Homo sapiens: one gene and its partner. The protein of the gene in region 2 interacts with the protein of the main gene of each other region in a pairwise test. Each region holds a gene or a part of one and is shown on either strand. Other genes may lie near its edges.

The links.
Region 1: the proteins of TXN2 (region 2) and ANKRD36B interact in binary tests that used the Homo sapiens proteins (3 or more experiments, as listed by UniProt).

The regions. Positions count from the first base shown.
Region 1 is NC_000002.12:97,579,189-97,587,300, forward strand, and holds part of ANKRD36B (ankyrin repeat domain-containing protein 36B), read right to left. Parts: intron 6,211-8,112; coding exon 6,096-6,210; intron 5,930-6,095; coding exon 5,756-5,929; coding exon of another isoform or gene 5,750-5,755; exon of another isoform or gene 5,323-5,749; intron 1,381-5,322; coding exon 1,274-1,380; intron 1-1,273.
Region 2 is NC_000022.11:36,478,574-36,486,895, forward strand, and holds the start of TXN2 (thioredoxin, mitochondrial precursor), read right to left. Parts: upstream 3,068-8,322; 5' UTR 2,991-3,067; exon of another isoform or gene 2,570-2,990; intron 2,265-2,569; coding exon 2,002-2,264; intron 1-2,001.

The DNA.
Region 1 (8,112 bases), on a different chromosome or scaffold from region 2:
TTTATCTTTGCAAGTTACCACAAAGGTTAAAAGCAAGGAACAAAAAGGAAGCCTCTTGTCCCACTGTGGTATGACATAAAGTTGCTAACTTAAAGTCCTTTGATGGGCAAGAAATATGCTCAGGCCACCTATCTACAGTAGGCAAATTTAAGTGAAAAATTATTCATTTCTTCCCTAGTCTGATACTATACATTATAATGCAAAATCAGCTGAAGGGTCAGATAAGAGCTATCTGCAGGCTTAAAACAATAATATTAATAGGAATGCTAATAGTAGTAGTCATAGCTTCAGTTAATGATGCTCATAAGCATGTGCTAGGCATTTAATTAAACACTATATATATATATATATGGAGGATAATAATATATCCTTCAAGGGTGGTTGTGTATAAGTAATATCACATATATATAAAATATATATAGTATATTATATATAATCTATAAAATATATAATATATAGTATATTATATATTATCTATAAATATATATTGTATATATTATATATTATATATGATGTTAGTTACATTATATTCTTACATACATATGTGTGTATATATATTATATGCACATACTTATATGCTCAGCCATTGTTTCCAAAACATCAGCACCTTGCTCTGTTAGCTGGACATTCTAACATTATATATATATAATGTTACTTACACACAACCACCCTTGAAGGATATATTATTACCCTCCTTTTCACAGAAGAAAACATACTTGGTAAGTAATGTTACCAAGGTCACACATCTAGCAAGTGGGAAAGCTAGGGATTAAACCCAGTCCTGTGTGAACCTAAAGCTTGTCTTCATTGAAGTAAAGTTTTATCCATCTAAAGCTATCTTTTTTCCCCCTCCCCATATCAATTAAAAACAACATCAAAACACAGTAGAAATGAAAAACTAACATGAAACCCCTTTAGCTAATGTAAGATCATACAATCAAAAGCATCACATTATTACATTGTAAATAACACCACATCATCTTACAAATAACAAACATCTATCAATATACAGAGCTTTCTATATATAGAAGCCTTTTATGTGTATAATGTCTATAGAGAGAGATGAATCCTGCTATACACTGTTCTTTATGTTACTCAGTCCAAATAATTGTTTTTCTACCTAAGTGATGATCTGTGTTGATATTTCTCACTATATCCCAGTAATTAAAAGTTAGTCTTCTTACTAATGTAATATTTGTGACTTGAGTGACTGCTACCACTCTAAAATGACACTCAGGTTTAAAAACAACACAATAAGAACTAAGGTCTGTACCTGCCAAGATAATCAATGGCATTTACATTTGCTTTTTTCTTTAATAAAAATTCCACCATTTTCACTTTTCTTCGACTCACAGCAAGTAACAGTGGCTGATATTCATTCTGTAAAATAACAGCAACAATTTATAATCACAAAATTACATATTTATCAACTGAAATGAAAACCTTATGTAAGATCCTGTGAGCTTCAATATATACAATTGAAAGGTCGTAAGAGGTAGTCCCTTTCTTTTCCCTCCTCGGTGCTTTTCTATGTTCTGCTCCTTCCCCTGGAAACAACCTCCTCTGCCTCACCACAAGAACTCTGGTCATCTCCAAAACTCACTTCAAACATTTCCCAGTTCCAAGAATCTTTGCTTCTGTCCCAGCATTTAGCATGGCATGTTTCAAGGATTTAATTGTTTCCCACCTGAACCAAGAGCTTCTTGAGGGCAGCAGCTGTATTTTTTTCTCTATGTCCTCAAACTCTAAGACACAGTAATAAATGTTTCAGGTATTTTTATTAATGATCTAAATTATTATCTATAGAGCGGTGTTTCTTAAACTATTAATATATTCCAAAGGATATTTACTTTACCAGAATTTGAACATTATACCCCAAAAGAGAGACTCCATGATCACCCATGTTTGAAAAATGTTACAAAACTGTGCATTATGTGTCTAGTATTTGAGAAATCTTTTGAACTTCACCTAATCCCTATTTGTAAATACTTATTTTGGAGAATGTTAACATTTGAGAAATGAGAGTTTCAGGGATACAGTTGTGAGAGCTTACCAGTAAAGGTAGAGGTTTCCTCTGGGTGATACACACTTGCCTCATTCTCTTCTATCGATGGTGTGAGAATCTCAGGTGACAATGTCAGGAGCTCCTGAGCACCTGAGCACCTGACATTGTCATCTGAGATTCTGACACGATTGACAGTTCATTTGAAGCCTATCTCTTTTTAATTCGGAGAGCCGGGCTCTGAATTAATAGAGATAGGCTTCGAGTGAACTTTCACTGCTTATTATTAAATAGTCCATGGGTTTTCTCTAGTAATATTTTTATCTTAGCTGTCAGAAAGCTCTGTATGAAATGTTATTCTCAATTACAATCTTAGGACCCTGATGCAAATATTTATGTAATTATAATCTTAGGACCCTGGTACATAACTCCTTTAAAAATCTATTTGTATTCTAGTTTCCAATTCATTCTTACCTAACTTATTTTATTTTAGGTAAAATATCAATCAGAAATAAAAATACAATGGCTTATCAATTAAAGCTCTAATAATGACCTATATGAATTATTTATAGCATAATGAAAACCACTAAATTATTTGCATCATTTATTTATTTATTTATTTATTTATTTGAGATGGAGTCTCGCTCTGTCACCCAGGCTGGAGTGCAGTGGTGCCATCTCGGCTCACTGCAACCTCCGCCTCCCGGATTCAAGCACGAGAAATTCTCCTGCCTCAGCCTCCCGAGTAGCTGGGACTACAGGCGTGTGCCACCACACCCAGCTAATTTTTTGTATTTGTAGTAGAGAGGGGGTTTCACCGTGTTAGCCAGGATGGTCTCAATCTTCTGACCTCGTGATCTACCTGCCTCTGCCTCCCAAAGTGCTAGGATTACAGGCGTGAGCCACTGCGCTCGGCCAATTACTTGCATTTTTAGGAGGCAATGCTGAAGAGAAAAATATAATGTTGTCTGCAATATGCATAACCTATGCAACTATACCATGATTCACCTTAAAAAGCTTACATGCATTCTAATGGGAAGATGATTATTTATGGTATGTATAAATAGTTTATAAAACACCACCATCTAAATTCAAAAGTTCAACCCGATTACCAAAGGATTTATATAAAATATAGACTCTACATTTAAATAAATATAAAATGTCTTGAAAACCTTGAAATATTTACTAAAATATATTATAAAACAGGGCTTGTAAAGTCATCCCTACAGAGGCAAGGGAGATGACCTGAGGAAGTGAAGTACCTAGGTAGGCACAGTAGCAAAATGGAGACCACATGCCTCATAGAAAGGGGCAACCTCTGCACAGCATCCAAAACCTGAGATAGGCTCAAGGGACACCAGATTGGATTCTTGAAGAGAAGCTTGGAATCCAGATCTGTGCACGAGTCTCCTAAACCTTCCATGTTGAGACAATTTGTAGACGCAAACTAAACACATGTATGGGACACATTTGGACTATATACCTTGTATTTTTATATTTGCTATGGATATGTCTCCAAGCGATTGTATGTAAAGCAAGTATTTTCATGTAAAATACTTCCTTTCTTTAGTTTCAGATTTTTTTTCCAAAATAGGCCCAAGAATGCAATAAAAATTGTTACTAAGAGTCATAATACCCACTTTGAGCACTTTTACAACATTCATTCATTTATAATTTATGTTTAATTTTCCCAGATTGTTCACCAAATGGATAATTAGTTCATAGGACTGCTGCAACTAAATTATTAAAATAATATTAAATTATAATTCTAGTTTCTATATTGTAACCTAATTTTTTTTATTTTAGGTAAAATATAAATCAGAAATAAAAATACAATGGCTTATCAATTAAAGCTCTAATAATGACCTATATGTATTCTTTGTATTCTTACTAACTTCATGGTTTTCAGTGTTTAAAACTGCTATCCTGATTATGCCACAGTTCTATGTACTTAACTGACATACTGAGGCAGTCCATAATAGAGCTTCAGCTTTAAAAAAAGGTTTAGAATTTTTTGCTATTGTAATTGAGAGAACCCCGCTTTTAATAATGATGTATTGACCTAATCACCAGAATGATAACAAAGAGACTCAGAGTCCTGAAAGAGTCAGTCTCTACTTATTAAAAGAGTCCACAATAGCAAATTTCTAATGACCCTATGAATGGCAGTGAATAAGTGATGGTGGCAAAGAAAAGGTGTTATTCTTATGCTGATAGATACTGCAAATAATAGTCCTTTCCACTTCCCAACCACAGAGGTAGAGACAGGTAAAAGTCAGGCCAATATTATTGGAAAGGAGAAATTTAAAGGAAGCAGCACCTATCTCCAGCTCTTCTAGAGATTTTTTGTGTGTTTGAGATATGGGAATTTATATTACACTTATCTATTCAGTGGTTCTTAACCAGCAGCGTATCAGTGTCCCAAGAAATGTTTTATTGTTGTTGTTGTTGTTGTGTTGTTGCTGTTAGAGGCAGTGTCTTAATCTGTTGCTCTGGCTAGAGGCACCACCATGCCCAGCTTCAAGGAAATATTTTAAAACATACATGCCCAGTAATATTTAATAGTAAATATTAGATTTACTATATTAAAATCTTCAGGGGATATCCTAGACTTAGAGATTTGCTTTTAATTTCCCCAGGTTACTGCCATGCACAATTCTAACTGCGAACCAGCACAGTTGATAATCACTTCAGTCTCATTTCTCACCCACGTGGCAAATTCCCTTTATCGTTTGGGATTTGGCCGAAAAGAGGAAAGAGCAAAAGATAGAGCCATTCACTGAAGACTTCATTTACTTTTCCTGGGTAGGGGTAGGGAAGAGACTAGTAAGCTCAAAATCCAACTTGATTTTACTATTTATAAGCTCCGTATCTCCCACCTGCCCATCAAGACATTCTGGACTTGAGAGTAGAGTTTAGATGCTTATCTGAGTGGCTGTTTCTGCCAGAATTGAATAATGTCCATTAATTATGTGTTCTTCTCTCTGCTGAACTGTGTGCCGCTTCATCACCACTATTCACTGCCAACCTGGTTTCCTCAGAGTCTTACCAAAATTGATCCCTGGGCAATTTCACAACTCACAAACTCTTTCCCAAAGTAAGAATAATCATCCCCAAAACTGAAGCGATCTTTGTCTAAACATATAAATTGAAAACAAACAACAAAACACACAAAAACCCTCTCCACAGTATTTTCCCTCATTACCTAATTTCCAAATTAGCTTGTGCATTTCTGATTGCTCTCCTTTTCTTCATTTTTCCCTCTTAAGCCTTTCCACAGAGGAATCACTTTCAAATGAAATCACCTTCACATACAACACTTGTCAACAGCAACAACATGTACATTTATTGTGAAATTCTTTAATTTTCTTTGACATTTAAAATAAAGCCTATTTATAAGGGACAATTTTACTTTCCTGTGTCACTTCACACTGATTAGAAAAAAAGTAATTTAGTGGAAAAACACTTAACTATTACCTTTCCCAAATTCAGTTGTCATGAATTATAAATTTATTGTAATTCATTTGTTTTTATAGTTATTTACCATAAGTGCATGAAAAAAGGCTGTTCCCTATAATGCTTCTTTAAAAGTTCCAATATTTAAAGTAAAATCTTAGACAGTTAAGGCATTTCAAAATATTTTCATTCAAGGAATGTTTGAGCTTCCAAATATGAAAAATTGACCCTTACATGTGTCAATGTTAAAATAAATGCATTTCAGATAGTTTGAAAATAACATTGGTTGACCTATACCTTGCTGCATTCTTCAATATTTGTACCATGTGAAAGAAGTTTTTCTATCATGGATGTATCTTCATTATACACAGCGTAGTGCAGAGCAGTCCTTCCAAAGACATCCGTAATATTTGGATCGGCGCCATTTTGCAGCAGAAGAGTTGCACAAGCCTCCTGCCTCAGTTGTACAGCCTGTCAGTATTAGACCGAGAAACATGCAAATACTGAAAAAATCAAAATAAACACTCCGTAGGATTTCCTACTAGTTATATGGTGGTATTCCAATGAGATAAATTCATTTTATCCTATGTACTTCAACCAAATCCATCTCATGCTCAAAGAGTCAGCTACTATGTACCTTGATCAGAGGTGTCCTGTCTTCACGGTCGCAGAGGTTAAGCTCACATCTTCTGGACACCAGGAGATGTACCATTTCCGGTTGGCCAGTGGCACAGGCCAAATGTAGGGCAGTCCTGTGAGAGTGACAGGACTTTTTAAAACATGTAACTGTAAGCATTAATTAGCATGTTATTTCTCTGTCTTCAAAACAAATATGTAATTTTCTTGTGAAGAAAGTACAACATTTGTTAGCGCTTATTACTCACCACATTAATGAAAGAGCAGGCTATTTAATAGAAAAGGCTTGGCTTTTGGATTCAGTTTAATTGGGGCTTAAAATTTACTGTAAGCTCTGTCACTTAGCTGTTATTTAGCCTTTCTTTGCTTCAATTTCCTTATCAATAAAATATGTAAGAGAATAGTAGCTAGCCCACAGAACACTGCTGTGATGCTTACATAAGAATCTATGCACAGCATTTAGAACACTTTCTAACACAAATAACAGCTCAATAATTTTTAGATATCACTACTTACAAAGACAAAGACATTTTAATTAAGTAAAATGATACAATCATATCTACATTGAGGTATCTATTAAAGATTAGATGTATCATTGTATTTCAGTCATTCTCAGATGCTCATTTTCTCACTATTCTCTTATATAAGCTACTATTCTCTTATATATTAACATCTCCTGACATTGGAAAACTGTTTACAATTCATTATTTATTACATTTATAACTGGCAACATTTTAAACATTATCTTATCGATATATAAAGTAATGTGGCATCACCCAATCCGTGATGCCTTACATTAAGTGGGATACAGTTCATAGAACAGGCAGTTCTATTCATATAATTGGCACCTAAATGAAGTACTGTGGAAAAAGAAGGCAAAAATAAAAAAACAAATTTTTAAAACAAAGTAATTCTTACTTCAACTTTCAAAAAAAAATAATCCAAAGAAAACTCAGGATTCAAATGAATAGGTATGGCTCATTTTTTTCAATACTTACAGAATGTTATGTAAATTAGGTATTTGCAATGATTAATAGTAGTATTTGAGACTGTCATAAGTTTTTGAAATGGCAGTTAAAGGTTATCTTTCACTATTTTCTAACTTCAGAATTGCTTTTGTTTAAAAAAAAAAAAAGGAATAAAAGATCCAACTGGGATTCAGTCCTAATGCTTCCATTTTAAATCTCAGCTTGCTCAGGCTGGGCAGGTAAACATGAAGTTGTTAAGGGTGGAAGAGTCCTGAGAGATGGTGGAATGTGTCTGCTACATAATAGGTATTCAGGTTATGCTTGATGAATAACTGGATTGAAAGAATGCATACATACAGTTGGGAAGTTTATTGTGAAAAAAACTATAAATTAAAGCAGTGCTTTTGGAATAGTGATAATCACTTATATTTGCTCATTTTCATTTTCATGAGGACACTGATAAACTAAAATAATTAATTTAAAATTGTTTCCTTATATGTAATAAAACTATAATAAAAACTTATGTATATACTAAAATCTATGCATAATAAAATAATCAAGCACAAATAAAAATATTCCCTCTGCCTCTGAAGAGGCTAAAAGTTCACAGAAGATACCAATAAACAAAAAAATAAAAATAAGGCCAGGCACAGTGGCTCACACCTGTAATCCCAGAACTTTGGGAGGCCGAGGCGGGGGGATCACCTGAGGTCAGGAGTTTGAGACCAGCCTGGTCAACATGGTGAAACCCCGTCTTTACTAAAATATACAAAAATTAGCTGGGCATGGTGGCGCACACCTGTAATCCCAGCTACTCAGGAGGCTGAGGTGGGAGAATCACTTGAACCTGAGAGGCAGATTGCAGTGAGCTGAGATCATGCCACTGCACTGCAGGCTGGGCGACAGGGTGAGACTCCATCTCAAAAATAAACAAACAAACGAAGAAATTAATAATAAAATAGAAACTGAGAATTTTTTTTCTTTGCAAGATTTATATTTCTTCTTTTCCCAAGGATAATTTCATTAATAAAAAACATTTACTAGAAGTTT
Region 2 (8,322 bases):
CCGCCTCCCGGGTTCAAGCAATTCTCCTGCCTCAGCCTCCTGAGTAGCAGGTGTGGTGGTGCACACCGCACCCAGCCAGGCCTGACGGTTTTAAATGCTGAAAAATAGGCCGGGCATAATGGCTCACACCTGTAATCCTAGCACTCTGGGAGGCCAAGGCGGGAGAGAATCACCTGTGGTCAGGAGTTTGAGAGACTAGCCTGGCCAATATGGTGAAACCCCGTCTCTACTAAAAATACAAAAAAATTATCTGGGTGGTAGTCCCAACTACTTGGGAGGCTGAGGCAGGAAAATTGTTTTAACTCGGGAGGTGGAGGTTGCAGTGAGCTGACTGAACCACTGCAGTCCAGCCTGGGTGACAGAATGAGACTCTGTCTCAAAAACAAAAAAGGAAAAAAAACCCTCAGGCCTGGCGCAGTGGTTCATGCCTGTAATCCTAGCACTTTGGGAGGCCAAGGTGGGAGGATTGCTTGAGATCAGGAGGTAGAGACTGCAGTGAGCCGTGATCGCACCACTGCACTCTACATTCTAGCCTGGGTGACAGAGTGAGACCTTGTCTCTAAAAGAAGAAAAACAAAAACAACTCATAACACTGAAAAACCCAGTGTGCAAGACCTTATCTCCTATTACAAGTGAAGAAAGGGAGCACAAAGATATCAAGTGGCCTGCCCAAGGCCACAGGGTGAGTCAGAGAAACAACTGGAAAGCCAGCGAAACAATCTGTCAGAGACCTGACCAGAAGGCCCTTCAATTTCTTTTTCTTTTTTTTTTTTTTTGAGATGGAGTTTCCCTCTGTCACCCAGGCTGGAGTGCAATGGCGCGATCTCAGCTCACTGCAACCTCCACCTCCCAGGTTCAAGCGATTCTCCTGCCTCAGCCTCTTGGGTAGCTGGGATTACAGGTGCCCGCCACCACGCCCGATTAATTTTTGTATTTTTGGTAGAGATGGGGTTTCACTATGTTGGCTGGGCAGGTCTCAAACTCCTGACCTCAGGTAATCCACCTGCCTCGGCCTCTGAAAGTGCTGGGATTACAGGTGTGAGCCACTGCGTCCGACCTGAAGGCCCCTGAATTTTTAACTTATGCTACACTGGTTTCTCCCAGGATGCCTCATTCAGAGGGCTTTGTCCAGCTTTTGTGTAGTTGGGTGTCTAGCCAGGCCCCAAAGATCTAGAAATGAAAAAGCCCAGGCTAAAATTCAGAAGGCCAGAGGGACTTAAATATCTCTAAAGCAAACTCAGATAGCACTGAAAGGAAACTCCTTCCTATGCCCTGTATGCTTGGGCACCACGGTAGTGACACCGATAACTTTTTTTTTTTTTTTTTGAGATGGAATTTCACTCTTTTTGCCCAGGCTGGAGTGTAATGGCGCGATCTTCAGCTCACTACAAACACTACCTCTTAGGTTCAAGTGATTCTCCTGCCTCAGCCTCCCGAGTAGCTGGGATTACAGGCACACACCACCACGCCTAGCTAATTTTGTATTTTTAATAGAGACAGGGTATCACCATGTTGGCCAGGCTGGTCTTGAACTCCTGACCTCAGGTGATCTGCCCGCCTTGGCCTCCCAAAGTGCTGGGATTACAGGCATGAGCCACCGCACCCGGCCGACACTGATAACTTTTTGCCAGCCCTTCTTGCGGTTTTCATGGCAGGATGTTAACATCAGCTTATCTGCAGGGCCAGGAACTGGTATACACCAAAAGCAAGGTGACAGTCATATTTTTCCAACTCTGGTCCATGCTAAAGATGACGCTGAGCTTTCTGGGGATTGAGAAACAGAACATGTGTTTCCCAGCACTAACAGTCAGCTTTGCAGACTGTTCACTTGTCTGTCTTCCACCAGACTGCATTCCCCTTGAGGGCAGGGACTGGGCCTGACCAGTCTGTATATTGAGTCTACATATGAGCAGCATAGAACATGGCCGTGGGACACAGCAGGCATTCAATAAATACTTGAACAAGTAGGACCCTAGTCTTCTGTGGACCCCCAATACTCACTGTGCGTGGAAATCCACAACCACTGGTGTCTCACTGTTGACCACTCGGTCTTGAAAGTCAGGTCCATCCTGGATATTAAAGGTTGTCAAGGAGATCCTCGTGGTGTATATTGTCCGGGCTGGGTTGGGTGTTACAGTCAGGCCACCAGGACTGCATTGTGGGGTCTGCAGGGCTCTGGAAGTGAGGGGTGGCCACTGACCCTGAGAGGGCTTCCTGGAGATGACAGAGGCCAGGAACCTCCTCAGAAGAAGTCGCTGAGCCATCTGTGAGGGAAAGAGGCAGAAGAACTGGGGCACACAAAAGGAAGTCGACACACTAGAAAAAGATTTGGGGAGTACTCAGGGCTCAGGAAGAGGCAGAGTTGGAAGCAAAATGCAAGGAAATCATATGTAAGATTTGTAGCGTGGAAGTGAGGAAGCAATGAGAATCAAAGGGAAGGAACAGCTAGGCAAACCAGAAGGACAGGAAAACTGGCTTCACAACCAAAAAGAAATCGGGATTTAGATTATAACGGAAGAATGGGAGGAAGAAACCAACAGATTTAATAATGTATGTAAGGACCAAGTACCTTACACACATTATTGGTCTTCCTACAGCAACTTCCAGGAAGTTGCTATTGTACTGCCCACACTGCGAGTAAGGGAAGGAATACGAGGCTCAAGTAAGTTAAGTGACATGCCCAAAGTAACCCCGCTATTAAATGACAGCCAACACTGGAACCCAGGGTCGTCTGAAAAGATGAAACGCAACAATTCAAGGAGGAACTAAGAGTGTGAGAGGAACCAAAAACGAAGAGACATGTACTGGAGGGAACCAATAAAGAAGGGACATGTGTGGAGGGAACTGGGAAAAATCGGACATCACCAGGGACCCTGGCTCTCCGGCGAGCTAGATCCCCCCGCCCGCCCGGCCGCCAGCCTGCGCAGGAACGCGCTCGCGGCATGCCTCAGCCGCGACACCACCTCGAGCCACCCCCACAGGGCTCCTACCTCCCTGCAATGCGAGCGGAGGGATGCACAGCCTAGCCCTCCCTGCCTGTCAAGGGCACGCCTGTCGTCACTTCCTCGGGGGGGGACGTACATAACGTCACTTCCGGGTACAGGCAGGCGGAAGAGCGTCCCTCTCCAATTTTTTTTTTTTTTTTTTTTTTTTTTGAGCCAGAGTCTCGCTCTGTTGCCAGGCTGGGGTGCAGTGGCGCGATCTCGGCTCACTGCAACCTCCGCCTTCCGGGTTCAAGCGATTCTCCTGCCTCAGCCTCCCGACTAGAGGCGCGCGCCACCACGCCCAGCTAATTTTTTTATTTTTAGTAGAGACGGGGTTTCACCACGTTGGCCAGGACGGTCTCGATCTTTTGACCTCGTGATCCGCCCGCCTCGGCTTCTCAGAGGGTTGTGATTACGGGCGTGAGCCACAGCGCCCATCTGTCCCTCTCCAATTTGAGGGGCGTCTGGGATTTTCCGCCAATGGGAATGGCGGGCTGAGGCACAGTTGAAGGGGCGGGGCCTCAGCTACGGACCGGAAGCAATGGGCAGGCCGTCGGGGAACGGATTGGAAGAGGCGGGCGGGCCCTGGTCTGGGCGAAGGCGGGGGCGGGGCGGGGCGGAAACGGAAGGGGTGGGCGGGCCCTAGAGGAGGGACCGGAAGAGGAGGTGATGGAGCAGGGGTAGCAATGGAGGGTACTTAAGGGAGAAAAGGCAGTTGAGAAGTCCCCGTGGTTTTGGATTTTGCAAACTCTTGTTGCTTTATTTTATTTACATATATTTATTTATTAATGACAGAGTCTCGCTCTGTCTCCCAGGCTACAGTGCAGTGGCGTGATCTCCGCTCACTGCAACATCCAAATCCCGGGTTCAAGTGATTTTCCTGCCTCAGCCTCCCAGGTAGCTGGGATTACAGGCGCGCGCCACCACGCCGGGCTGATTTTTGTATTTTTAGTAGAGACGGAGTTTCGCCATGTTGGCCAGGCTGGTCTGGAACTCCTGAGCTCAAGTGATCCGCCCGCTTCAGCCTCCCAAAGTGCTGGGATTACAGGCGTGAGCCACCTTGCCTGGCCTCCTGTTTATAACTGGCGCTGTCCACTTCCTACAGATGTTGACAGGTTCTGTTTCTCCATTTAATATGTAAAGCTAAGCTCCTCAAAGGCATGATGCCCTTTATATGTAAAAGAACTCAACCGGGAGTTTAGGGGCCATCCTTTAAGTGGCCCTCGTCTGTGTCCGCCTAAAGGAAAACAAATGAAAACTGAGGCGAGCCTAATTTAAGCAGGGAGTTTTTTTGGGTCAAGTTCGAAGACTGCAACTCGGAGCAGAGATTCAAGTTGTCCTGAATATACACTCGGATTAGCAGCAGCTGAAAGAGCGTTTTTAAAAGAACAGGCAGTTTCCAAATTGTTGATCAAAGTTTTTTTTTTTTTTTTTTTTTTTTTTGAGACAGAGTCTCGCTCTTGTTGCCCAGGCTGGAGTGCAGTGGCGCGATCTCGGCTCACTGCAACCTCTGCCTCCTGGGTTCAAGGGATTCTTCTCCCTCTGCCTCCCCAGTAGCTGGGACTACAGGCGTGCCTCACCACGCCTAGCTAATTTTTATATTTTTAGTAGAGACGGAGTTTCACCATGTTGGCTAGGATGGTCTCGATCTATTGACCTCATGATCTGCCCACCTGGGCCTCCCAAAGTGCTGGAATTACAGGCGTGAGCCACTGCACCCAGCCTTTTTTTTTTTTTTTTTGAGACGGAGTCTTGCTCTGTAGCTAGGCTGGAGTGCAGTGGCATGATCTTGGCTCACCGCAACCTCCACCTCCAGGGTTCAAGGGATTCTCCTGCCTCAGCCCCCCAAGTACTTGGGATTACAGGCGAGCACCACCACACCTGGCTAATTTTTTATATTTTTGGTACAGAAATTTTATATTTCACCATGTTGGCCAGGCTGGTCTCGAACTCCTGACCTTAAGTTATCGCTCGCCTCGGCTTCCCAAAGTGCTGGGATAACAGGCGTGAGCCACCGCGCCTGGCCGCCCTGCCCATTTTTGTATCGGTTTTCTGTGTCTCTAGCACTTTCTTTTCCACAGCCACCTATCAATCCTATTCAGCACTTCCACAGTATTTTCTAGAGAGCCAATTTTCCTGCCTAATTCACATTCTGAATTTCACAGGCGGACCAGTCCTGTTTGTCCTTATGCCATAGTCACTTCACCCTGATCGGCCTCAGGCTTCTCATCTGAGCAATGGGAAGAATGCCTTTCTCATAGCTGGGCTGAGGGTTGCAGTAGAGACAGAATCCACATCATTGCTGCCTGATGACTCCTGCAGGGAAAGCCTGAGAGACACAGAGAAGGCTGAGCTCTCGGCGCGCTACAAAAGGGCTCTCAGCTACATGGTGGCTCCTCTGTCCAGCTAGAGCTGAGCTGGCCTGGGTCTGGCTTAGTCACAAGCAGGCTCAGGGCACAGCTGAGAGGCAAAGGGAAGGAAGCCAGGACTGGCAGCCTGGGCTAAGGGTAAAACTTCTACCTCCTACCAATATTTATTGCAGTGTTTTTCAAACTGCAGGATATGGACGTCAGTGGGTTTGCAAAATTAATTTAGTGGGTGGTGATCTGCTTTTTAAAAAAACAAACATGGTGCCAGGCGTGGTGGCTCACACCTGTAATCCCAGCACTTTGGGAGGCCAAGGCGGGCAGTTCACTTGAGGTCAGGAGTTCGAGACCAGCCTGGCCAACATGGTGAAACCCCATCTCTACTAAAAATACAAAAATTAGCCAAGCGTGGTGGTACACGCCTGTAGCCCCAGCTACTCGGGAGGCTGGGCAGGAGAATGGCGTGAACCCGGGAGGCGGAGCTTGCAGTGAGCCGAGATAGTGCCACTGCACTCTGGCCTGGGCGAAAGAGCAAGACTCTGTCTCAAAAAAAAAAAAAAAAAAAATAGCTCTAAGGTCTTGCACTAACCGGTATGACCTGTCTGGCGTCTTTACAGGCAGTATTGGAATGTTATAGGGAGACATACAGGGTTTAAGAAATCCATCACGGAGAAGACCTTCAATTATCAATTATAGGTTTTAAATTTACCTCGGCTTTGAAAGGAATAGGATACATTGCTTTCTCTTTACTACTTCCCCAGGGGTTTGTAATTTAACATGAAACTGAGTAATCTGTAACTTTCCTCGATTCTCGTCTTTTGACCATACCTTGGGATGAATGAGTTCTTTGTCTGTGGTGGGGAGCAAGTTTAGGGAGGGGAGGAATCTTCCCTGATTAATATAGAGGCCTAAGCCAAATTTTAGCATTAAATCTCTCTAATAGGTTTGTTCCTGCCTCTGGAATAAACAGAAATTTAATATTAGCTGATTTGCTTTTATATATGACTTTTGTTCTTTTTCCCATTTGGGACATTTTCTTTTGAAGTGACCTATTTTTAATCTGAAACATTTATTTTGTCCTCTTTCTCTCCCTTTGCCTCTCCCTCTCTGCCTCTTTTTCTCTCTCACTCTTTCTCTTTGCCTCTCTCTCTGCCTCTCTCTTCCTCTTTGACTCTCTCCCTTTGCCTTTCTCTCTGCCTCTCTCTTTCCCTTTTTGCCTGTCTCTCTCTCTTTGACTCTGTCTGTTCTGTCAGTCTTTCTCTCTCCTCTAAGTTTTTTTTTTCTTTACTTTTGAGTCTCCTGGCTTTACTCTTTCATACTCTATATATTGCCTGGAGAGTGGGGGTCTAGGTTCTTTTTTTTTTTTTTTTTTTTTTTTTGAGACGGAGTCTCGCTCTGTCGCCCAGGCTGGAGTGTAGTGGCGCGATCTTGGCTCACTGCAACCTCCGCCTCCTGGGTTCACGCCATTCTCCTGCCTCAGCCTCCCGAGTAGCTGGGACTACAGGCGCCCACCACCATGCCCGGCTGCTTTTTTTTAGTAGAGACGGGGTTTCACCGTGTTAGCCAGGATGGTCTTGGTCTCCTGACCTCGTGATCCGCTCGCCTTGGCCTCCCAAAGTGCTGGGATTACAGGCGTGAGCCGCCGCGCCCAGCCCTCAGTCTAGGTTCTTTATAGGTTCTGGCCCCCTGGGTACTTTGTTGTATGGTAGACAGCAGAATTTTTGCCTTCTGCTTTTGTTTTTCATCATCTTTTCTTATATATACCTTTTGGGCTTCTCTTAGAAGCTCTTCTATAGGTTTATCTTTCCAGTTCTCTATCTTTTGTAATTTCTTGTTAATATCTGGCCAACTGTTAGTGACAAAATGAAGTTTTAACATTCCCTGCCCAAGAGGATCCTTGAGACCTAGACCAGTGTATTTTCTCATTTGTTCCTTTAATCTATCTAAAAATTCTATAGGCCCTTCATCTTTCCCTTGCTGTATATCAAATATTCGGGTAAGATACTGAGTTCGGGGTACCAATTTTTTTTTTTTTTTTGAGATGGAGCCTTGCTCTGTTGCTCAGGCTAGAGTGCTGGAGTGCAGTGGCGTGATCTCGGCTCACTGCAAGCTCCGCCTTCTGGGTTCACGCCATTCTCCTGCCTCAGCCTCCTGAGTAGCTGGGACTAAAGGCGCCTGCCACTATGCCCAGCTAATTTTTTTGTATTTTTTAGTAGAGACGGGGTTTCACTGTGTTGGCCAGGATGGTCTCGATCTCCTGACCTTGTGATCTGCCTGCCTCGGCCTCCCAAAGTGCTGGGATTACAGGCGTGAGCCACTGCGCCCAGCCTCGGGGTACTGATGCTTTAATCCCCTTTATTATCAATTCCTTAAGGTCCTGCATATTTTCTCGGTGGGCTGCGTTGTTATTGTCCCACTGGGGGTCTTGGGTGGGAGTTTTTTGATCTGCTGTAGGAACGTTTTGGCCAGGAGGGTGTTCGTGTTCCTAGGCTCCCATAGCAGCTCTATGGATCATGTCTCTTTCTTCCCCCGAGAAGAGGGGAAAGGGAAATTCTGAATATCTTTTTTACATTGCTCTATCTCACGTTGAAGTCCTTTAAGGGAAAGGTACTTAGGTCGGTAGTGAGTGGGCTCTTGGGACGATTCTCAAGAGGCAGGGTTGTAAGAAAGGGGACATCAGAGATAGGAGAAGGGTCTGGGACAGCAGCTGCTTTTGTTTTTGGTCCTTTCATTATCCTTCTAACATTTTAACATTAGGCCTGGGGGAATATTACTGTTGCTAGCTTTCTCCTTTTTATCTCTTACCTTACTTGGGGCATTTCCCATCTTGGGTCCTGGTTAAGCTCAATCTCCCCTGTTGGAGATGTCTCGCCTATCCTTTAGCCCCACCTGCTGGAGGCTCCTTGCATTCATGCACACTTTCAACCCCCAGAATATCCTGACCACCAAGGAAATACTTTGTCACCCCTGCG